Linked DNA regions of Homo sapiens. The protein of the gene in region 3 interacts with the protein of the main gene of each other region in a pairwise test. Each region holds a gene or a part of one and is shown on either strand. Other genes may lie near its edges.

Evidence for each region.
Region 1: the proteins of RBSN (region 3) and EHD3 interact in binary tests that used the Homo sapiens proteins (3 or more experiments, as listed by UniProt).
Region 2: the proteins of RBSN (region 3) and EHD2 interact in a two-hybrid assay, tested with the Homo sapiens proteins (one study listed by BioGRID and IntAct).
Region 4: the proteins of RBSN (region 3) and VPS45 interact in binary tests that used the Homo sapiens proteins (3 or more experiments, as listed by UniProt).

What each region holds. Positions count from the first base shown.
Region 1 is NC_000002.12:31,265,127-31,269,964, reverse strand, and holds the end of EHD3 (EH domain-containing protein 3), read right to left. Parts: exon of another isoform or gene 4,025-4,838; intron 3,789-4,024; coding exon 3,261-3,788; 3' UTR 514-3,260; downstream 1-513. UniProt on the Homo sapiens protein: ATP- and membrane-binding protein that controls membrane reorganization/tubulation upon ATP hydrolysis. In vitro causes tubulation of endocytic membranes. Binding to phosphatidic acid induces its membrane tubulation activity.
Region 2 is NC_000019.10:47,730,390-47,737,427, reverse strand, and holds part of EHD2 (EH domain-containing protein 2), read right to left. Parts: intron 1,060-7,038; coding exon 895-1,059; intron 1-894. UniProt on the Homo sapiens protein: ATP- and membrane-binding protein that controls membrane reorganization/tubulation upon ATP hydrolysis. Plays a role in membrane trafficking between the plasma membrane and endosomes. Important for the internalization of GLUT4.
Region 3 is NC_000003.12:15,075,113-15,082,150, forward strand, and holds part of RBSN (rabenosyn-5), read right to left. Parts: intron 5,691-7,038; coding exon 5,620-5,690; intron 3,050-5,619; coding exon 2,963-3,049; intron 2,053-2,962; coding exon 1,950-2,052; intron 599-1,949; coding exon 494-598; intron 1-493. UniProt on the Homo sapiens protein: Rab4/Rab5 effector protein acting in early endocytic membrane fusion and membrane trafficking of recycling endosomes. Required for endosome fusion either homotypically or with clathrin coated vesicles.
Region 4 is NC_000001.11:150,140,746-150,145,837, reverse strand, and holds the end of VPS45 (vacuolar protein sorting-associated protein 45), read right to left. Parts: intron 3,001-5,092; coding exon of another isoform or gene 2,907-3,000; intron 1,130-2,906; coding exon 1,042-1,129; coding exon of another isoform or gene 917-1,041; 3' UTR 509-916; downstream 1-508. UniProt on the Homo sapiens protein: May play a role in vesicle-mediated protein trafficking from the Golgi stack through the trans-Golgi network.

The DNA.
Region 1 (4,838 bases), on a different chromosome or scaffold from region 3:
AGGCACAAGAATGGCTTGAACCTGGGAGGCAGAGGTGGCAGTGAGCTGGGATCATGCCACTACACTCCAGCCTGTGCGACAGAGTGAGACTGTCTCAAAAAAAGGGAAATGCAAATATAAGCTTTCATCTCCCCTTCACTAGACATTCCCTACAGGGCAAGTTCATCTCTCTGCTCCAAAATAGTCCTCCAGAATTGACTGCCAATTTGCAGACCAAAACATGCCCTCCTTGAGCTTTCACCTCCAGGGGTTGCCTTGGAACTCCCACCCTCCAGGGGCTGCCTCAGGACTTTCATTCACTAGGAGGTTATATCTAAAGTATGCCTACTTGGCCACTTTTAAAATTTATTTTTGCCCAGGAAGGCCCGACTCAACTGTCCAGTAGATAAGGCACCATGCTATCAGGCGGACCCTTGCTCACTTGCTCCCTTACCTTATAAAAGTGCCTGCTTTCTGCTCCAAAGGGGAAGCGGCACATTGAAAGGCAGGACGTTGTGTGCCCCTCCTCCAAGCTAGCTTTGGAATACATTCACTTTATTGGTATCAGACTTTACTCTTGTCCGTGGGACTTTGCATACATTGAGCAACTAACCCGCATTTCAGTTACATTCATGTCACACTTTGGTCATGATTTAGCTCTTTGGTACCAGGGGCAAGCTTTGCTTGGTCAGTAGCATAGGGTGTTGCTGTGTTTATTGGATGGATTCCATGGCCCAGACTGAGTAATGTCGGGGCAAGGAACAACAGGACAAGTGCTCTAGAAATTCTTGTCTGTGGGGCTGACATGACATGTCTCTGCTTTCCCTATTAAATGTTTCCTGGGCTGAGGCATGAGATCTCCCAGGCCCCTGAAGCCTGGAAGGGGTCAGAAAGCCAAGGCAGCAAGGCTAGAGGGCACTGCCAGGGAAAGTGACCCACATCTGTCCCCTCAAACATCAGTTCCTCTTTCCAGGGAGATGGGAGCTGTGCAAACATGGAATTCCCACACCTCACAGGTCTCTCCTGGGTGGAGACTTCAAGATGGAGAGAGGGAAGAGAGGCAGCATATGTAGAAGGGCAGGAAAGTGGCATGTGTGTCCAGTGGCAGTGAAGAAAGGGGATAACAGACATCTCCCTTTCCTATAAAATAAAAAGACAGGAACTTCACCTACCTCTGCTATTTCCTTCCCATTTCTCCTTCAGCTTGAAGAAAGGTGTGGAGTTGAGAAATGGTCCCTAACCTGCACTCGGCACTCAAGGGTTTTCTCCAGAGCAGGTGAGACCTCTTTGCCTGGCCTTTGTCTGCCCTTCATTTCATGTGAAAGAGAAATGTGTATTTGCAGAAGGAAGCCCAGGGGCTTAGGGAACATCTTCACTCCAGAGGAGCAGGGAGCGGTGGCTCCACCAGCTGTGCCTGGGTTGGTCACTGAGCCTAGACAAACTCCAGCCCACTGGGAAGCTGGTTGTGGATGCTGGCCATTGGGTGGCCCCAGTGAGCCCTTTCCAGCCAAAGATTTCACCAGGAACTCCAAGTAAGAACCCAGCCCTTCTCCCTCAGCCTCCATTGAATGATGCTCTGTGGCCAGGCAGGTACCAAAGAATAAATGTACTGTATTAACATGAAGACTAATGACAAATGCACTGCAGTAGTAAGCACGTCATAGATGCATAGAATATTCTCTATATAGTCTGAATATGGATATAAAATAAGTTATACTCATTTTGTTTTCCATCACAGTAGGAGCATAGCATACAAAGTGATTGGTTCAGTGGCCATGAAGCAAGCCAGGGGAGAGACCACAGAAGAGAATGTAGGGCATTGAGTACAGTGGGGATTTGCCAAGGACACTGCAGAGTCCCTGGGGACCCTCTGGGGAACAAGGCCCCAAACCTCTCAAGTTAGCCTTCTGAGAATAGTATGAGGTCCCACTTGACAAGAGACAGTGGCTGCATCTGAGCTGGGATGATTCAGGCAACTGGGTGGGAGGCAGAGCAGGGACAGGCACGAACAGCATCCAGCAGGCTAGCCCACTCTCCTGCTGGTGCTGTTGGATGTCTATGATGCTGGGAATATGGGGCGCAGAGCCAGAAGGCACGGTTTGCTTCTGTGACGTGACAGATGGCCAGACTGATGGGCCACCAAATGCTGGCCGGCCCTCCTCCCTTGCCAGCCTGTCCTGGGAGGCTGCAGGGGGCCTGCATACTTTGCTTGTTCTCCATAGTTTGTCATTGGGTATCAATGCTGGGATCCTGCATACATCATAGCACAGACAAGTGTGTGAGGGTCTGAGGCCCTGGCTTTGAATCCTCTCTCCATCACGTGACTTCTGTGAGTTTCAGAAGGTCGCCTAAACCCTTCTGAGGCTACTCAGCCTCCTCAACTGCAAAATGGGAAGGCTAATGCATACTTCCCTGGGGCATCAGTGAGGGCCACATAGAATAATGTATATAAAGTGCCTAACACAGCTCCTGGTACGCAGGAGGGGCTGGGTAAATGTGAGTCAAGTATGAACATCTAAACATCATAGGCCAGGTGGAAAGAACATCTAACAAAATCTATGAACTAAAACCACCTTGACTGGTTTTCAATAGACTACAGGACAATTTCCTCACTCTTATCAATTTTTTTCTCTTCTCTCTCCCGCTCTGGGATTCTTTAAAATGAAATACTGGCAGAGTTCAAAGCAAGGTTTGCCGAAGAAGACAGAGGCTTAGATTAGGAAAGAACAGAGCTCCTGGGCCAATGTCTCTAGAAGACGCTTCCTTTCTCACCTCTCCTCCCTGCAGCTGCCCGCCTGCCCTCAGATCTCCTAGCTCTTGAATGGATTTCTTATTAGGAAGCCAAAGCAGATAGGGGAAGCACAGAAAAAGAAGTGAATTGTCTACTAAATGAAAAGTCTTTTCCATTTGCTCAGAGCCCGGGTGTGGAAGCACTGGGGAATCTGGAGGTGGGTTGGCCATCTGTGCTGGCAAGTGAATTGCCTCAGGTCTGGTATCTGGGGAGTGGCCGAGGAGAGGGGAAGAGCGATAGAGACTTAGGCTTAGACTCTGGGGCCTGGGAGTGCTCTTGTCCTTCTAATCCCGAGAACTTGGAGGTGTGCCCAAACAAGTATCAGCTGCAAACATGGGCGTCATGGTCCTCTCTCACCTACAGAGCAATGTCAAGATATGCATATGTGTGTGTGCATGTTTGTGTGTGTGTGTGTGTGTGTGTGTGTGTGTGTAGTCACCGCTCCCATCTCCTCCTCTAACACTGCCCGTCTGAATGTCCCCCCACCCCATCACTCGGCAACTTTCCTCTTGGACGGGGGCAGGAGGTGGGCAGGCAGCTCGTTGGGCAGCTCGTGCCCCTCCAGCTTGACTTTGATGAGGTGGTTGGCCAGTGCAAACTCGTCGTCGTCCAGCATGCCATCCTTGTCAATGTCGGCCAGCTTCCAGATCTTGCCCAGCACACTGTTGGGCAGCTTGGAGCGCACCATCTCCTTCTTGGCATTAGCGCCTGTGATCTTGCCATCCACCGGTGACAGGGTGTAGAAGATCTCGTCGTACATGGGCTTGTCCCTGGCCACCACCCACTCAGCATCATCGATACCTTCTCCAGCCCCCTCCCCATAGCCATGCCCAAAGGGGCCGTGCAGGGTGCCCTCGAACGCTCCGCCCTTCACCATCTGGATGGGCCGCTGTGACTCCTCCTGGCGCACTAGCACCATGAGCTGGGCAATGTCATGGGCCAGCATGTCGTCCACTACCTCCAGCAGCTTGCTCTTCAGCGGCTGGAACTTGCTAAAGTCCTGGGCCTGCAGCTGGTCCTGGGAAGAGGAGGAGAGAGGATGAAGATAGGATACGATGAAAGGAGAGCCCTCCATTTATCACGTGCCTCCTATGAGCACCAGAATGTTCACAGCTGATCCCTTTCTACAATGAAAGACCTGTGACCTAGAGGCTCAGCTGATGGACATCACGTGGTAATCGAAGGTATGAGAGAGGAGGGGAATAAAGGCCCACTGGGCTGATGATGGGATTTTTCAGTAGGGGGTAGAAGGGTTGTAGGGGCTGGGGAAGAAAGGGAAATTTAACAAGTATTGGCATGATCTATTTATTTCAATCCCCTTCAATGTCATTCCAGAGAGGAAATCATTACATTTCTCTTTAAGTCAGTTTTGGCTATTGAATCATGTCTCTTGAATGCTGTACCTCTGAGACTGGGTCATGTGGGCCTCTACTTTAATAAGGGTTATACTGTACTTGAAAATCACCGCAAGTGCCTTCACTACATTACCTCGTTCACTCCCCCAGCGCCCTTCTGAGGTAGGAAAATCACATTCTATCCCCACTTAGTGAAAACAAAAACAAAAACCAAACAGGGCACAGGGTACTAAAACCAAATCATAACAGAAGCCAAAGGTCATCCCCAAATTATGGTTCTTAATCAGGATGCTCATCGGAGTCACCTGAGGAGAGTTTTCAAAATACAGTCATGTGCTGCATTACAATGTTTCAGTCAATGAGGGACCACACGTATGACGAGGGTCCCAGAAGACAATAAGGGAGCTGGGAAATTCCTGTTGCCTGGTGACATTGTAGCTACTGTACACAACACAACGCATTATGTGTTTGTGGTGATGCTGGTGTAAACAAACCTACTGTGCTGCCAGTGGTATAAAAATCTAGCACACACATTTCCATAGAGTACATAATACCGGATAATGATAACGGCTATGTTACTGGTTTATGTAAATATTTACTATACTGTACTTTTTATTGTTATTTTAGGGTGTATTCTTTCTACTTATTTAAAAAAAATGTTAACAGTAAAACAACCTCAGGCAGGCCCTTCAGGAGGAATTCCAGAAGAAGGC
Region 2 (7,038 bases), on a different chromosome or scaffold from region 3:
GCCTTGGCCTCCCACAGTGCTGGGATTACAGGCATGAGCCACTGCACCCAGCTGTGTATATTTTAAATATTTATATTTTACAAATATAAATATTTAAGTCTCAAATAAATAAATGAAAATAAAATAAACAGTGTTCTTAAAGAGACTACTCTTTTCTTCCCCTTCCCAACTTCCTTTTCTTTTTTTTTTTTTTTTTGAGACGGAGTCTCGCTCTTTTTGCCTAGGCCGGAGTAAAGTGGCGCTATCTTGGCTCAGTGCAAGCTCCGCCTCCCGGGTTCACACCATTCTCCTGCCTCAGCCTCCCGAGTAGCTGGGACTACAGGCGCCCACCACCACACCCAGCTAATTTTTTGTATTTTTAGTAGAGACGGGGTTTCACCGTGTTAGCCAGGATGGTCTTGATCTGCTGACCTCGTGATCCGCCCGCCTCGGCCTCCCAAAGTGCTGGGATTACAGGCGTGAGCCACCATGCCTGGCCCCCTTCCCAACTTCTTGCTGGCTGGAACGCAGACACAATGGCTGGAGCCTTCACAGCCCTTTTGTACCATGAAGTTCCTTGGGCCTGGAGGCCAGGCATGGAAGAGAAATAAGACAGAAGGGGACTAGATCCCTGGCTCTGTAAAGCACCAAACCAGTCCTGGATCACTTTCTGGGACTTTTTATGGAGGAAAGAAAGAAAAACTCTCTATCTTAATTTAGCCACTGTTATTTTGGGTTTTCTCTTCACTCCCCTAGCCTGACTCATAAAACCATGCTCCCACGGAACTATTTGAGGGAGGCGCTTTCCAGAACCTGCCATCCATCCCTCTGGCTTTTGAGGTCCCATCTCAGAGCTTCCAGAAACCAACCTTCCCATCACCCACCCCCAACATTCCCTCCTGGGCAGCTTCCCACCTGCATTTTCTGGCAATCAGGAAAGTCCCCAGGGGAGATGTGATGTTCCAGCTGAATCTTCGCAAAGATGACGGGCAGTTTGAGGATCAGCTGCTTCTTCTTGTTCTCCTTCCCAAACACAGAGGGCATCTCCTTCTTCAGGTAGCTGATGATGTAAGCGTGAACCTGTGGGAAGGGTTCTCACCTCAGCCTGCATCAGGGTCCACCAGGGAGCTTGTTAAAACACAGGCTGCAGGCCCCACTCCCAGAGATTCTGATTTACTTGGTCTGGGCTGGGGCATGAGAATTTGTATTTCTTTTATTTCTTTTTCTCTCTCTCTCTCTCTTTTTTTTTCTTTGAGACGGAGTCTCGCTCTGTCACCGAGGCTGGAGTGCAGTAGCACAATCTCGGCTCACTGCAACCTCCGCCTCCCGGCTTCAAGCAATTCTCCTGTCTCAGGCTCCTGAGTAGCTGGGATTACAGGCATGCGCCACTATGCCCAGCTAATTTTTGTATTTTTAGTAAAGATGGGGTTTCACCATGCTGGTCAGGCTGGTCTCAAACTCCTGACCTCGTGATCTGCCCACCTTGGCCTCCCAAAGTGCTGGGATTACAGGTGTGAGCCACCGTGCCCAGTCTTTTTTTTTTTCGAGACAGAGTCTCGCTCTGTTGCCCAGGCTGGAGTGCAGTGGTGCAATCAGCTCGCTGCAACCTCCAACTCCTGGGTTCAAGCAATTCTTCTGCCTCAGCCTCCCAAGTAGTTGGGATTAACAGGCATGCGCCACCACACCCGGCTAATTTTTTTGTATTTTTAATAGAAACGGGGTTTCTCCATGTTGGCCAGGCTGGTCTTGAACTCCTAATCTCAGGTGATCCACCCGCCGTGGCCTCCCAAAGTGCTGGGATTACAGGCATGAGCCACCGCGCCTGGCCTGCTTTTTTTTCTTTTTTTTTTGGAGACAGGGTCTCGCTCTATCACCCAGCCAGGAGTGCAGTGGTGCGATCATAACTTACTGCAGCCTCAAATTCCTGGGCTCAAGGGATCCTCCCGCCTCAGCCTCTCAAGTAGCTGGGATTACAGGCAAGAGCCACTGCCCAGATGGGAATTTGCATTTCTGACAAGTTACAGGTGCTGCAGGCGGAGGTGCCACACTGTGAGCCTCATGGCCTCCTCCTGCTGGGGCTCACCCTGGGCTCCTCCTCTCTGCTAACTAAGTGAGCTGAGTCCCTCCCAGTTTTAAACACCCCTCCAAGAGGTCCACTCCCGAATCTGCATACCAGCCTAAGCCTCTCCCTCCAGCTCAGGACTCAGAGCTAATTGCCCTGTCAACATTCCTGGATAGCTCCATACCAGGATGCCCTAAGTGGAATTTGAGCCTAGCCCTCAGAGCTGTGTCGCCCTCAGCTGTGCCCATCTCTGAAAAGGGCATCCCCAGCCCTGCCTTCCCAGTTGAGGCCAGAAATCTAGAAATTTTATTTTTATTTATTTATTTATTTTGAGACGGAGTCTCACTCACTCTGTCACCCAGGCTGGAGGACAGTGGCGCAACCTTGTCTCACTGCAACCTCCACCTCCGGGTTCAAGCAATCCTCCTGCCCTGGCCTCCCGAGTAGCTGGGATTACAGGCACGTGCCACCATGCCTGGTCAATTTTTGTATGTTTAGTAGAGACTGGCTTTCACCATGTTGGCCAGACTGGTCTCGAACCCCTGACCTCAAGAGATCCACCCGCCTCGGCCTCCCAAAGTGCTGGGATGACAGGCGGGAGCCACCCCGTCCGGCTCTAGAAATCACTTTTTTTTTCTTTTTGAAAGGGAGTCTCACTCTGTTGCCCAGGGTGGAGTGCAATGGCATGATCTTGGCTCACTGCAACCTCCACTTCCTGGGTTCAAGCAATCCTCCTGCCTCTACCTCTCGAGTAGCTGGGATTACAGGTGCCCGCCACCACTAATTTTTGTATTTTTAGTAGAGAGGGGTTTTCACCATGTTGGCCAGGCTGGTCTCAAACTCCTGACCTCAAATGATCTGCCTGCCTCAGCCTCCCAAAGTGCTGGATTACAGGCGGGAGCCACGGTACCCAGCTCTTGAAATCATTATTGATTTGATATTTGATTCTTCCTCCTGTTAAGTAGCCACATCCAACCTATCAATGAGTCCCTTTTGCCTCCTCCTATGTCTCTCCCTCTCTCCCCTACTTTCCTTTTCTTTTTTGCTTTTTTTAGACAGGGTCTGGCTCTGTCCCCCAGGCTGGAGTGCAGTGGCACAATCTCGGCTCAGTGCAACCTCCACCTTCCCAGCTCAATCCATCCTCCCACCTCAGCCTCCTGAGTAGCTGGGACTACAGGCACCCGCTACTACGCCCAGCCTCTCCCCTGCTTCTCATTTCTCTCCACCTCAGTGGCCACCATGTCCATTCGAGCGTCATCCTCTCTTGCCTGGGGAGACACCCAAGGTGGCCCGACAGGTCTCCCAGCTCCCCATCCTGCCCCAATAACCCTTGCTCCATGCAGCAGTGGCCCAAGAGGGCATTTTTCAGGAAGGAACATGAGCCCAGGGGATGCTGCTCATAACTCTCTATTTGCTTATTGAAGTTCAAAATTTCTACCGAAGCCGACAAAGCCCTACAGCAGCAATTCACGAAGTGTGGTCCAGGGAAACCCAGGGGTCCTCAAGATCCTTTCGGGGGTTCCTGTGGTCAAAATTATTTTAAGAACAATACTAAGACGTTATTCGCTTTTTGCTTTCTTCACTCTTTTTTTCTCCCAAATGGACAGTGGATTTTTTTTTTTTTTTTTTTTTTTTGAGACAGAGTCTTGCTCTGTCACCCAGACTGGAGTGCAGTGGTGCAAATAATGACTTTATTTATTTATTTATTTATTTATTTTTTGAGACAGAGTCTCACTCTGCCGCCCAGGCTGGAGTGCAGTGGCTCAATCTCGGCTCACTGCAAGCTCCACCTCCCGGGTTCACGCCATTCTCCTGCCTCAGCCTCCCAAGTAGCTGGGACTACAGGCGCCCGCCACCATGATAATTTTTGTATTTTTAGTAGAGACTGGGTTCCACCATGTTGGCCAGGATGGTCTCGATCTCTTGACCTTGTGATCCGCCCGCCTCAGTCTTCCAAAGTGCTGAGATTATAGGCATGAACCACCGCGCCTGGCCTAATGTCTTGATTTATTAATCTTCTCTTCTCAAGAGGCTGAGATGGGAGGATCACTGAAGCCGGGGAGGTCAAGGCTACAGTGAGCCATGATCATACCACTGCACTCCAGCCTGGGTGACAGAGCAAGACACTGTCTCAAAAAAAAAAAAAGGAGCCCCAGAAGGGCTGGAAACTTGTCTGTTCCCTCCATCTCCAGCACCAGTACAATCTGTACAGAAAACACTCAGGAAATATTTGTGGAATAAACCAATGAACTTGAGAACCTTTGAAACACAATCTTTTTATTTTTTATTTTTTATTTTTTTTTTGAGATGGGGTTTCACTCTGTTGCCCAGGCTGGAGTGCAGTGGTGCGATCTTGTCTCACTGCAACCTCTGCCTCCTGGGTTCAAGCGATTCTCCTGCCTCAGCCTCCTGAGTAGCTGGGATCACAGGCATGCACCACCATGCCCAGCTAATTTTATATTTTTAGTAGAGATGGGATTTCTCCATGTTGGTCAGGCTGGTCTTGAACTCCTGATCTCAGATGATCCGCCCACATTGGTCCCCCAAAGTGCTGGGATTACAGGTGTGAGCCACCACACCTGGTCCACAATCTTATAAATTATCGAAAAATAAACAAGGAGAGCAGAATAATGAATATTGGTATGTCTATATTTTATAGGAAGCTCACAAATTAAATATTGCTCATGCCTATAATCCCAGCACTTTGGGAAGCCAAGGGGGGAGGATCACTTGAGGCCAGAAGTTCGAGACCAGCCTGGGCAACATAGCAAGACTTGGTCTCTAAAAAAAAATTTTAAAACTAGTTGGGTGTACTGGCGCGCGCCTATAGTCCCAGTGAATTGCCGGGGCTGAGGAGGGAGGATCACTTGAGCCCAGAGGTTTGAGACTGAAGTGAGCTATGATGTCGCCACTGCACTCCAGTCTGGGCGACACAGCGAGCCTTTGTCTCTAAAAAAATGAATAAATAGGCCAGGCGCGGTGGCTCACGCCTGTAATCCCAGCACTTTGGGAGGCTGAAGCGGGTCGATCACCTGAGGTCAGGAGTTAGAGACCAGCCTGGACAACATGGTGAAATGCTATCTCTACTAAAAATACAAAAATTAGCCGGGCTGATGGTGCCCACCTATAATCCAAGCTACATGGGAAGCTGAGGCAGGAGAATCACTTGAACCTGGGAGGTGGAGGTTGCAGTGAGCTGAGACCGTGCCATTGCACCAGCCTGGGCGACAGAGTGAGACTCAGTCTCAAAACAAAATAATAATAAATAAATGCTTTTACAAAATGCAGTATATTGGCCGGGCGTGATTACAGTATATCACGCCTGTAATCCCAGCACTTTGGGAGGCAGAGGCAGGCGGATCATGAGGTCAGGAGATCGAGACCATCCTGGCTAACACAGTGAAACCCCGCCTCTACTAAAAATACAAAAAATTAGCCAGGCGTGGTGGCAGGCACCTGTAGTCCCAGCTACTCGGGAGGCTGAGGCAGGAGAATGGCGTGAACCCGGGAGGCGGAGCTTGCAGTGAGCCGAGATCATGCCACTGCACTCCAGCCTAGGCGACAGAGCGAGACTCCGTCTCAAAAAAAAAAAAAAAAAAAATGCAGTATATCTGGAAAGACACACAAGAAACTACTTATGGGGGTTGCCTCTAGAAAAGAGGCCCTGGGAGCTGGTGGGGTGAGGTGTGGGAGAATCATGTCTGATAAAGTATGAATGCCTTTCCATGAGATGGTCTTAAATGTTCAATAAAAAAGACTAGTTAAAAAATTCTTTTAGGCCAGGCACAGTGGCTCATGCCTGTAATCCCAACACTTCGGGAGGCCGAGGCCAGCGGATCACCTGAGGTCAGGAGTTCGAGACCAGCCTGGCCAACATGGTGAGAACCCATCTCTACTAAAAATACAAAAATTAGCCAGGTGTGGTGGCACCTGCCTGGAGTCCCAGCTACTCGGAAAGCTGAGGCACAAGAATCACTTTAACCTGGGAGGCAGAGGTTGCAGTGAGCCGAGATCATGCCACTGCTCTCCAGCCTGGGTGATAGAGAGAGACTCCATCTAAAAAAAAAAAAATTATATATATATGTATATATATATATATATATATATTTTTTTTTTTTTAAAGAATCACAAATTTAGACTGCTGAGAACGTTGGTGGTCCCTGACTGGTTCTAAATCTTCATCTCTTCCACCTTCCACCACCACCCTGTCTCCAGCCCCGTTAGGCTCTCAGTTCAAACACATCAAGTGCATGGCTGCCCCAGGGCCTTTGCACATGCTGTTCTCACTGCATGGACTGCTCTTCCACCCGATCGCCACTCGGCTCACCCCTTCCTCTTACCCCTTCCTCTCCTTCAGAGCGCTCTAAAATAGTCCCTCGCCAGCCCCTCTTTCCTCCGCTTCATTTTTCTTCATAACCATTGATTTGTTTAATGTTTGCTTCCCCACTAAAAAGTAATTCTATGAGAAAAGGAATTTATCTGTGTTCCCTGCTGTATCCCCAGAGCCTAGAGGAGTACCACATGCGATCGGCAACTGCTGAATGAATGTCACTGGGCCACTGCAGAGAATGTGGTCTGAAGGTTCAGGGCATCTTGGCGTCTATAGAATCAGACCCTCCCAAGATCTTGGCCTTACGTATCACAGCATCATAAAATCTCCCCTTCTAACAGCTATCACTTCAGCCAAAGGACTTAGAGCCAGAGGATTCGTCCACACCCTCCATCGTACAGATGGGAAACTGAGGCACTGGGAGGAGGGTGAATGCCTCCTCCCAGAGAGTCCAGGAAGGCCTGGTATCTTTGGAGGAGAGCATGAGGGGAGGTTAACAGTATGGCTATTGTTGGTGACGACCAAGTGTGGCGGACTCATATGTGAGGAGCAGGGGTGGGGGTGCGACACGGGGCAAAGGAGGGGCAGTGAGCCTTGGTCACAGCGGACCCTAAATCCCATGCTCCTGTGTCCTGAACGGCACTGGGGAGCCATGGATGAACCTGCA
Region 3 (7,038 bases):
GACCCTGATTTTCAAAAATAAAATATAATGAATAAGTTAGGGCATCAGATTTTCTCAATCTTAGATTCACAGGCCGTATACTTTTCTTAAACCTCTAAGGTCTGTTCCCCTCATCTACACTGGAATCTCACGCAGCGTTAAATACACATATAATTTTCTGTTTAATATTGCATATACCGATATGTTCTACAAGGAACTTCCTAATGTCTTGGTCCTCTGCAACTCCTGCCATAGGGAGAACTGTCAATCTCTGTGGTATTCTAGCCATGAGAGAATCAGCAGAAGCTCTGAAAGAAAAATAGGCCCTGGGGAGAAAAACAATTATTCTAGTTCCCATAGATGAAAGTGAGGCTGAAACACAACAGAAGAAATATGCACATTTGAGAGAGAGGTTCTGATTCACTACAACCGCACACAACCTGGGAGCCCATGGCAGCCTCTGTGCTTGAGAGCCACAGGAGGAAGCAGGCCCCATATCCCTGGCTTCACTCACTTGTCTCTCCACGGCCCTCTTCCTCTCCATTTCCTCCTTCCTTTTCTTTTTCAGTTCCTCAAACTGTTCTTTGGTTGGCAGTGACATCAAACCAAGCAACTTTTCCTGCAGGGAGTGACAGACAATTTTACACTTAAACCCTTTTAGAGAAAAAATGAACCTTAAGCCCCATGATGAGAGTCTGCTTAAGCTGAGCCACTCTGTTCTCAGAGAGTGACATCATTTGACAGCAGCTAGAAAGGAGAGAACTCATATTGGGTGAGACAGTCAACTCCAAATGGGCCTGCATTTTCCTTATGAAATGATCAACATCAGATATCCCAGTTATTCACCTGGCTCAGATGTTAGCTTCTCTATGAGGTCTTGTCCCTGCCCATCCTATTAACTTAGCAAACCTCAATCCCAGCCCTCTCTCCCACACTTCCCTGCTGTAAGTTTCTCCAGAGCACTTTTGCTATCTTACATACTAGATATTTTAGTTGTTTATGATCTCTCTCCTTCTCTAGAACATAAGCTTAATGAGAACAGGAACGTTGGTCTTTTTTGTTCACTATAGGACATCCAGCACCTAAAACACTACCTGGTACATAGGAGGCACTCAACAAATGATTGCTGAATAGAGTCACTAATCAAAGTGAGGAAGGGCCTACTTCTCTATACTACAGAGTTAGAAAACTAACCTGACAGGACTCTGTCTATTAGATCTCTTTGTTGGCTGGGTGCAGTGGCTCACGCCTATAATCCCAGCACTTTGGGAGGCCAAGGTGGGCAGACTGCTTGAGCTCAAAAGTTTGAGACCAGCCTGCGCAACATGGTAAGACCCTGTCTCTATTTAATAAAAGAAAAAAAAAACACTTTGTTTTAATTTAAAAAAAAAGAAAAAAACAGATCTCTTTATCAGGGAGCCCCAAGAGTGGTTAACTGTGACTCTCTCAGAAGGGGCCTTCAGGGATAGAAAGACACAATTCAGATCTAACCACTTAGGTTAGTCTGCCCTTAATCGGCTGTTTCCTCCCAGCTGATGGCTCAAGAAGAGTCTCTTAGGAGATTATCCTAAGGAAGAAATACTAAGTACCATTATTACTATCATGGCAACACTTAACAGCAGCAAAAAATTAGTCTATCAAATGTCCAACTAAAGGAAAACGGTTAAAGAATGGCATATACAGTCAATATGCAGTATCGTAACTACTGTATATAAAAAATACAAATGGGAAAAAAGAAAACATACCAGAATAATGAGTGATTGTAATGGGGACATAGGATTAAAAGTAGTTTTAGTTTTCTCTGAAATCCAGATTTTTCTCTAAGTGTGGCATCATGCATTCATAATTTCAAAAAATAATAAATGTATAAATAGGAAGTAAACAAGTCATTGGCATGGATCTGCCTCCTGGGAAGCAAAAGAGCAGGACAGGCCAAGTGCAACATTTATGCCAACCCAGGATGGCTTTACCTGCACAAAAAGTGTAGCTGAGTATCTGATCATTCTCTGCAGCCGCAAATTGCTTGGATGTGGTGGAGGGTCCTGGTTCAAGCCCAAGGTTAAGATCTTCTTACTGAATTGGAACAAACACATGAATATAATGAGCACTGCCAGCTTCAGAAACAAGGGTGAAAAGTATAACATCTGGAGTTGCCAGGCTTTCATGCCAGGAAGGTGTGTAAAGATGGACAAGTGACTCCATTGAAGTTTCTTTGAAGGCAAAGCCCATTTCTTACCCTTTGGCTGTACACAGGCCTTAGCAAAGGGCGCACAACACTGTTATGGAGTGACTGACTACACATGCAGAGCCAGCTTCACAGGTGAGCAACCTATGCAACTGGAAAGGACTGGCACTTAAAAGAGCCCTGTGCTTGGTTTAATGCTCTGCTGTTAGTGTCTTTATTCTTAATAACTTTTGAACAGGGGACATGCATTTTCATTTTGTACCAGGCCCTGCAACTACGAACTCCTGCTGTATGTCTGGATGGACAAAGGCACCTCATCTTATTCTCCCTCTGAGTCACTGGCTAATTTAACCCCAATGGCCAGTCCACAGTTAAAAAGCAGCTGTGGACTTGAGCACAGACACAAAGAAAGAACCTGAGTTTCTATCTTCACTCCACAATTTTTGCTATCTGTGACATGATTCCTCACCTTTGACACAGGATGTTAATCCCTACCTCACAGGGTAACTTCAGTAGAATAAATGAGCTATTCTAGAGAAAACAGCCAGTGACTGGCAGGTGATAGGTGTCAATAACCAGCTCCTCTTTCTTTAATAATAGCAAACATTAGAAATCCTTAACGAAACAAAAGTCACTGAGATGCATTAAGTGCCAGAGCTGGCCCCTTCCTTGCCCTCCTCCTCACCCACTGCCCCATCACCAGAAGTCTGAGTGAGTGCAGGTCTGCTTTCGCCATTTCATTAGAACAGCATCTTCTCCATTCCACCAGCGGGCAGGATACCACTTAATGGACCTTACCTTAAAGCGTCTATCAGCTCATACACTTTCTGCACTTCCACTCGAAGGTCACTGGCATGTTCCAGACTGTAGGTTGTCTCCCCAGCACTAAGGAGAAACCAGAGACACGTGACCTAAGTTTCATGGTGCAGATTGGACAGCATAGTGTAGAAGGACGCTAAAGGTGTAAGGCCTCACAAAGGCAGTTAATTCTCTAAAGGTGGCATTTCAGACTTTCAGATATAATGCAGTGTCCATCTCTTGGAATGAATGAATCAAGTGGAAGTGATGTTTCGATTTGCAGACGCAACAGGGACAGATTCATGCCAAGGCCTCCAAGGACTAGCCCTTATGCTCATCACCAAAACAAATGCGGCTGAATTTACTCTGGCCTACTTTTCCTAAACAATTCCACTATATCTAACAAGATGTAAGAAGTGGTTACACTACATTAAGAGCAGAAAGCTACTTGGCTTTTCTCGCTCAAAAGTACCCAAGGAGGTTCGAGACCAGCCTGGCCAACATGATGAAACCCCATCTCTACTGAAAATACAAAAATTAGCCAGGCATCGTGGTGGGTGCCTGTAATCCCAGCTACTCAGGAGGCTGAGGCAGAAGAATTGCTTGAACTGGGAGGCGGAGGTTGCAGTGGGCTAAGGTCGCACCACTGCATTCCAGCCTAGGCGACAGAGCAAAACTCGGTCTCAAAAAAAAAAAAAAAAATACATATATATATATATATATATATATATATATATATATATATATATACATGGTTTTGTTTTAAATATATATATACACATGGTTTTGTTTTTAAAAAAGGCACATCTACTACTACATGCATCGCTTTAAATGTGGCAGATAGGCAACACAGGTTTAAGACAAAGACAGAAAACTCTGAAATTAATAACACTAGATACCATAATTAATTCTTTTCCTACAGGTTGGGAAAACACTGCTGGGATCTGACTCTAGTAGTTAGCACTTTAACTTCTAGGTTACAAACACTAAGCTTCAGAAAAAGCAACGATCTTAAGCAGGGATCAGCAAATTTTTTCCATAAGGAGCCGAATCATAAATGTTTTCAGCTTTGCAGGCCACACAGTCTCTGTTGCTGCTATTCAACTCTGTCATGGTGGTGCAAAAGCAGCCACAAACAGTAATCAAACATGGGCATGGCTGTGTTCCAATAAAACTTTATGCAAACAGGTGGCAATAACTAGTGTTGGTAAGGCTATAAAGAAAGTGAAACCCTCATACACTGCTGGTGGGAATGCAAAATAGTGCAGTCATTCCACAAAACGATTTAGCAATTCCTCTATGGAATGTTACTCTATGGTAATATATAGTTACCATAAAACCCAGCAATTCCACTCCTAGGTACCTACCCGAGAGAAATGAAAACATGTCTACACAAAAAACATAAAAACTTGTACTCAAATATTACAGAAGCATTATTTATAACAGCCAAAAGTGGAAAAAACCCAAATGTTCATCAACTGATGGATAAACAAAATGTGACAAGTATCCATGCAATGCATTCATACAGATGGAATGAAGTACTGATACATGCAACAACATGGATGAATCTGAAAAACAGTACACTGTGTGAAAGAAGCCAGACAAGAGAGATTTTATATTTATGATTCTATTTATATGACATGTCAAAAGCAGACAAATCCATAGAGACAGGAAATAGATTAGTGGTGTCCAGGGAGATGGGGAAAGGGCAGTGGCTGCTAATGGGTATGGGGTTTCCTACTGGGGTGATAAAAATGTTTACAATGAAGACAGTGGTAATGTTCGCTAATTTTGTGAATACGCTAAAAACCACCAAACTGTACACTTTAAAAGGGTAAAGGTTAGGGTGTGTGAACTACATCTCAATTTTAAAAAAGAAGCAGATGTTGGCCAGACACGGTGGCTCACGCCTGTAATCCCAGCACTTTGGGAAGCCAAGGCGGGTGGATCACGAGGTCAAGAGATCAAGACCATCCTGGCCAACATGGTGAAACCCCGTCTCTACTAAAAATATAAAAAAATTAGCTGAGCGTGGTGGTGCGTGCCTGTAGTCCCAGCTACTTGGGAGGCTGAGGCAGGAGAATTGCTTGAACCTGGGAGGTGGAGGTCACAGTGAGCCGAGATCACGCCACTGCACTCCAGCCTGGCAACAGAGTGAGACTCCGTCTCGGAAAAAAAAAAAAAAAAAGCAGATGTCAGGATACATTTGGCCCACGGGCTGCAGTCTGCCAGCCCCTGCTCTAATGGTCATGCCTGCTTTAAGCCCTGACACCTCAATGTGACACTCAAGTGGCATCTACCCAGACATGAGCATGAGACCCACTGCCCTTCCTCTGCTCTGTCCAGATGCTGCACTCAGCAGCAGTACCTATTGTCTGAGGCCCTTCCCAAACCTGCTCAGTCAGAATAGCCAAGGTCAACTGAATGTGGCTGTCTTTCTACAAGCTCATGTGATGGTAGCCTGTACCCCACTAAAAGACAGACATGAAGATGATTCTCTTCATAATAGCCAAAAGTGGAAAAAAACCAACTTCAGCTGGTCTCAGAAAAAAAGCACGGTTGAAGTTAAGATTTTCATTTTTGGCTACTGGAGAATTGACCTAAAATGCCAGAAAACAGTCACCACTGGATTAGAAAAACATAGATGAATAGCTTACTTTAATGATGCTGCCATCCTGATGTATTCTGGAGCTTTCTGGTCAACTTTCTCCATGCAAAGTCGTAATTTCTAAGAACAAAAACAAAGAGGTAAGTGGTATGCTCAAGATATAGAAACACCTACCCAGAAGCTAGGCTCCATCAATGGAGCTATATTTAAAATGTTCACTTTTCTAACACATTAATTGTTGTTATCAATTTCCTGATTTATAGGCATACTTTCCAAGCAGAAAATTTTGTAGGAAGGAAAGAAAGTGAGAATGGAGCTTCTGATCAGATGTTTCGTTTTGTTTTTTTTTGAGAAGGAATTTTGTTCTGTCACCCAAGGTGGAGTACAATGGCGCGATCTCCACTCACTGCAACCTCTGCCTCCTGGGCTCAAGCGATTCTCATGCCTCGGCGTCCTGAGTAGCTGGAATTACAGGCACGCTGCCACCACGCCCGGCTAATTTTTATATTTTTAGTAGAGACGAGGTTTTGCCATGTTGGCCAGGCTGGTCTCGAACTCCTGGCCTCAAATGATCTGCCTGCCCCGGCCTCCCAAAGTGCCCGGCGAGATGTTTTTGAGAGGAGCAAGGCTTCCAGGGCACAAGCCAAGGTGTCTACCAAGACAAAAAGGAATTAGCTGCTACTTTCTTTCTCTGCCAAGTGATGCCAGGCAACAATGGGAAACCAGCACAAGGCATTGCCAGGGCTTACTTCAAAAGAGGAGGTGGCACAAGCACCGTGGGTATTCACAGAAATGAGATACCAGGTCGTGAACTCCACACAAAGGATGGAGAATGCTACATCTGCAACCCAACATGGGGCTTAATTGACACCATTTCTAGTAGCCTGAGTATTTACATAGGGATTCCAGAAACAGTGCCATTATGACCTGCAGAACTACTAACAATGACTATTCAGTGGTCATTAGGCAAAATTACACTCTTCCTCTGTTCAGAATGTTGCACAAGCTGCTTCCTCTGCCTGGGCTGATCTCTTCCCTGCATCTCTTACTGCCTCCCCACCCAGTCCACCTGGCTAGTCTTCCTCAGCTCACAGGTCTCACCTGGCCATTAAGGGACCAAGCCAGTCTCACTCCCAGATATTCTTTGCACACTATTTCCTCTCAGAGTATGCATCTAGTAGGGGGGCTGTGGGATCACTCAAGTAACGACAGCTGAGGCATTTGGACAAACTTAGAAGGGGACACTCAGTAAACTGGTGAAGCCTGAAAACTTGTAGAACTTTCTAAAACTTGTAAAGTCTAACACTCCCAAGTGAGTTTCCCAGGATTCTTCTGGCCCACTGTTTATGAACATCTCTAGCTTCTGCCCTTCCCACAGAACCTGTCTACACCACATGGCAACTGCCCTTCCTCCTATTGCCTCTGGGCCACCAAAGCTTCCACCCACCTGCTTTCAAGTGGCCAAGGA
Region 4 (5,092 bases), on a different chromosome or scaffold from region 3:
TTTATTAAATGATTACCGTATACCAGTGTTTTAAGCACTTTTCATGTATCATCTCATCTCATTTAATTCTTCTAATCCTATGAGGAAGGTTCTATTTTATAGATGAGAAAGCTGAGCCACAAAGAGGCTAAATAATATTCCCAAAGCCATATAAATATGACATAGGTTTGACCCTTACTGTCTGATGCTAGAGAATATTTGTCAACATACAAGTTTACACACACACACACACACACACACACACACAAAACAGGGAGGGATTGTGCTTTGGTATTTTTGCTATGATGATTTGAGGATGCCTTAATTTCCTGGCAATAATGATACTGTCACTTTCTCCTGTTTTCAAGAGAGGTGAAATTGACACTAGAATTTATTATTTGCCTTGACATACTTTAAATATCCTTCAGGTAGAAGTAATGCCTTCATTATGTTTGGTGTGAAACCAGCTCATGTCCCACCTCATAAATTCCCATAAATTAGCCTCAAAGAAATAAAACTAAATCACTCATATCCTTTCACAAAATGGATTTTTATTGTGGTCATACATGGTTTCTCAGTGCCACAGAAAATTGCTATGTAGGGACAAAAAATTTTTGGATGGCTCTGTAAAGAAACATGGTAGGTTTTCAGAAATGAGTTGTGCAGGAATGTGGTTAATGAAAAGCAGAAAGGGTTAAGGGAAGAGAAAGGAAGCCAAGGAGTGTGGTATGTACATCAAATGATTACTTTTTAAGCCCCTCTAGGCTCTGATAACCCTTTCCCCAAGTCAGATCCCAACAAAATTCATCAGTAACTGAAGTGATTGTGCTAACAGATACATAAAGACTACCGGAGAAAAGTGGGTTGAGATGGGCTCAGACTTATTGTTAGGACAACTCTGGGAGTCTTGTGTCTGTGCCAACCACGTATCCGTGGGCTACCTGGAGATGAGTTCTAACAACCAGCACAGAACCCAAAGCTGCTCTCCAACACCTTTGTTTAGTAGGGAAAACCTGTAGTGGGGACAAGAGAGGAAGCTGTGCCCTTCCCCCAACCACCGTTTCATCTTCTGCTCGCTGACCTTGATGTGACTTGAGAGCTCTCCTTGCTTCGGCTGTGCAGTCCAGAAGCCAGAACTTCCTCTAGGAAACTGATAAGTAGTTTGAGGTTACTTGAAGGAAAAAACAAAAGCATCTCCAAAAATAGAATGTCTTGCTCTGGACATCTAACCAGATGAAAATATATCATGAATAGTAGGCAGGAGGTACTGGTCTGATATTTGGGTATAGAATGGAAGCATCAGTTGAGCACTACAACATCCATACTGCAAGGACAGTCCTTCTGTGCTCTTCCCCAGGGTCTTCATTTTTTTTTTAGAATTAAATTTGTAAGATCTATTAAGACTAACATTTCAAGTTTGAAGTTTCTATTTAGGATCCCAGAATTTTTAAGGGCAAGGCCACTATATTAACTCAGTACCATGTTACATCAGCACCTGTTATCTGTACTCTTGAAACTGTCTCAGAGCTTGTATGTTGTCTATAGTTTCTTTCTTATCCAATCTACTCTCCAGAGTGGCACCAGAGTTACTTTTCTAAAATGCAGATTACAGGCAGGCGCGGTGGCTCAGGCCTGTAATGCTAGCACTTTAGAAGGCTGAGGCGGGTGGATTGCTCGAGCCCAGGAGTTTGAGACCAACCTGGGCAACAGAGCAAGACCCTGTCTCTAATAAAAAAAAAATTAAAAAATAAAACAAAATACAGATTATATCCTGTTGTATACTCTCCCTTCTTCTGCTTTAAAACCTTTCTTTTACTTATGGAAAATGTACAGTTCAAGGCCTTTCATAATGTGCCCTAATAAAGAATACTTATATTCATTTTGTTCTGAGCACCGTTTAAAGCCATGTGTGTGTATATATGCATATATGCATGCGGCCCTGTCAAACAGATGCTACTATTATCCTCATTTTAAAAAACGAAGAAACAAAGCTATAGAGGGGAGGTTAAGTGACTTGCCAAGGTCACAACAGCTAGTAAGTGGCTCAGCTGGGATTCAGATCCAGGCTCTAGATTCTGTGCCTTTCAGCATCTTGCAATACTGCTTCCCACTTGTCTGTTCCATCTCTCAGAGTGCAGCCTCTATGCCATCCATGCCCAACTACTCACTGTTCCTAAACACGTCATGAGCTTTCCTACCTCAAGTAGTTATTCTTACTATGTCCTATGTTTGACTATTCTTTCTCTGCTGAAATCTTCTTTTTTTTTTTTTGAGACGGAGTCTTGCTCTGTTGCCCAGGCTGGAGTGCAATGGCACAATCTCAGCTCACTGCAACTTCTGCCTCCCAGGTTCAAACGATTCTCCTCCCTCAGCCTCCCGATTAGGTGGGATTACAGGCATATACTACCATGCTGGCTAATTTTTGTAGTTTTAGTAGAGACGGGTTTCACCATGTTGGCCAGGCTGGTCTCAAATTCCTGGCCTCAAGTGATCTGCCTGCTTCAGCCTCCCAAAGTGCTGGGATTACAAGCGTGAGCCACTGCGCCTGGCAAGAACCTTATTCTTCAAGACTAAGGATTAAAAGTCACTTTTCTGGCCAGGCATGGTCTCATTCATACATACATACATAAATACATAATCATAAAAGTCACTTTTTCTGTAAAGCCCTTCCAGACCCCTCCATGCTGAACTAATTACTGTTATTACTTTATCCCACTCCTATCTTAGCACTGTATAATTGTTGCCAAGACAGACTGTGAGCTTCTTGGGAGGTAGGGGGAAGTCTTACTCACCTTAGATCTCCAGGGCTTAACACAGAGGTATCCAATAAAGTTATGCTGAGTAAATGAATAAAATAGCTACCCATTGGCAAGACAGCCTTCTTTATAATATAAAAGTTATTTGGATGGACGGGTGCAGTGGCTTACGCTGTAATCCCAGCACTTTGGGAGGCTGAGGCGGGTGGATCGCTTGAGCCCAGGAGTTCGAAACCAGGCAGGGGAACATAGTGAAACCCCATCTCTATAAAAAATACAAAAATTAGACAGGTGCCTGTAGTCCCAGCTACTTGGGAGGCTAAGGCAGAAGAATTGCTTGAGCCTGGAGGCAGAGGTTGCAGTGAGCCAAGATTGTGCCATTGCACTCCAACCTGGGCGACAGGAGTGAAACCCTGTCTCAACAACAACAACAGCAACAACAACAAGTTATTTGGATGCTCAGGACTCTCTCTCAGAGCAGACAGATATTTAAAAGACAGAGGACTGGAGGAATGACCAGTTATTACCATTGTTTTGCAGTTTTATTACCATCTTGCATTGAAAGATTCTGGGCTTGGAGAATTTAAATTCCAAACTCCTTTGCAAAAGAAAAAATTGCAAAGTAGAGGGAAAGGAGTAGAAGCTAAGTTCATTTGTTCCTCTATGGAAATACAGACATCTTTGGCCTGGCTTTTTGGCCAGTTGGACTAGACACAATTGGAGGTCAGAAAACAAGTGTTAGGAAATGAGGTAGCACTGATTTTTTTTTGAACAATAACACAATAAGTCTTGATGACTTCTAGAAAGAATGAAATAAATGTGCTGGGAAGCCCTATAGGAATTTTATCAGGGGATCTTTGGTTCATTTCCAACTCTGCTACAAAGGGAAGAAATAAAGATCCTCCTCTGTATATCAACAAGACCCCACATTCCTGACTATAATGAGAACACACTTACTATTTATATTTACCAGCCTAATTTTGTTTCCTAGGGCCACTATGACTTAAAAAAAAACTATTTGGGGACTCTAATGAGTCATTGCTCAGAATGCTTAAAAAATTATGGCGAATGAACATATTGCTAGCTGTACCCCAAATTTAGACTATGTTTAAAAACAAAACAAAAAGAATAATTTTTCTTTCTAAATTCATTTTAAATCAATCTCACTTAAAAGCAAACTCAAAAATCCCCTTCTCCGTTGGTGCCATAGTCCAGTTCAATTCAGTTCAATTCAATCCAATTCAACAAATGTTTAATGAGCATCCATTATGAACTAGGTGTTGAACTAGGTGTACAAATGTACACCTTAGTTATGATTCCTACCTTAAGGGACTCTCAGAGACAGATACACAATCACAATCCAATATGAGTATAAACAGAGGCAGTGCCAGAAACTAACAGAGTGGATTAATGCTACTGCTTTTTTTAGTTTGTGCTGTCATCAAGGGTGTTTTCCTGACTCCATGTATAGAAGGAAGGTGGGTGGAAAAAAGCAGAACCCCAACCCTGATTTTAAAAAGTCAACCTTGAGAAGTCTTGAGTCACACACTGAAAAGCAAGCTTCTCCACTTACATCACTGGTAAGGGACTAGAGACCAATGTTTATAGGATTAAAAATATTAATTACTAAAATAATTCAGCTGAACAACTGTGTTTCTATTCCTAAACAAAGCTATCATACTGTAACAAAAACTATGTGTGTGTATGTGTATATAATTTAAGGATATGTCTTCCTCCTTTTTCACTATACTCCACAGGTAAAAATTACATGTGAATTTCTTATACCAAAGACACCAAGGGGAATCTAGAACCTGAATAGTGTTATAATAATTAAAAAAATAGAACTTGTGGGGAGCAGAAAAATAGAAAAAGACTTTCAGGAAAATAATGAGAAAAACCCCAAGATATTTGTCTTAATGGAGTAATAAGCTCCTAATTACAGCCAAACACTTACTTGGAGAAGTTAGGAGTATGGGAGTGGGTAAGGCAGAAGGATAAGATGAAATTATTAATAGCTTAAAACACTGAAAATGCTCCTCACCTCTCAACTTCCACGGCTTGCAGTTTTCAGAGCCACTGCTATGTTTCATACTTCTTTGCTTTTGCACCTGCTATTCAAAGGCTGTCCCATCCATCTCACACTTTGTTTGGTGGAACTATGCATCTTTAAAAACCCAACTCTCACATTATTACTCCTCTAGGAAGCTTTCCTCAACTGCATTGCTTTCCCCTTAGAGTTACGTACTCATTCTTCCATATCTTGTAAATATACTGTGTTGTAATTTATTTGTCTGTATGTCCATTTTCCATGCAAGCTTATGAAGCTTTTAGGGGCACAAGGATACATGAGTACATTC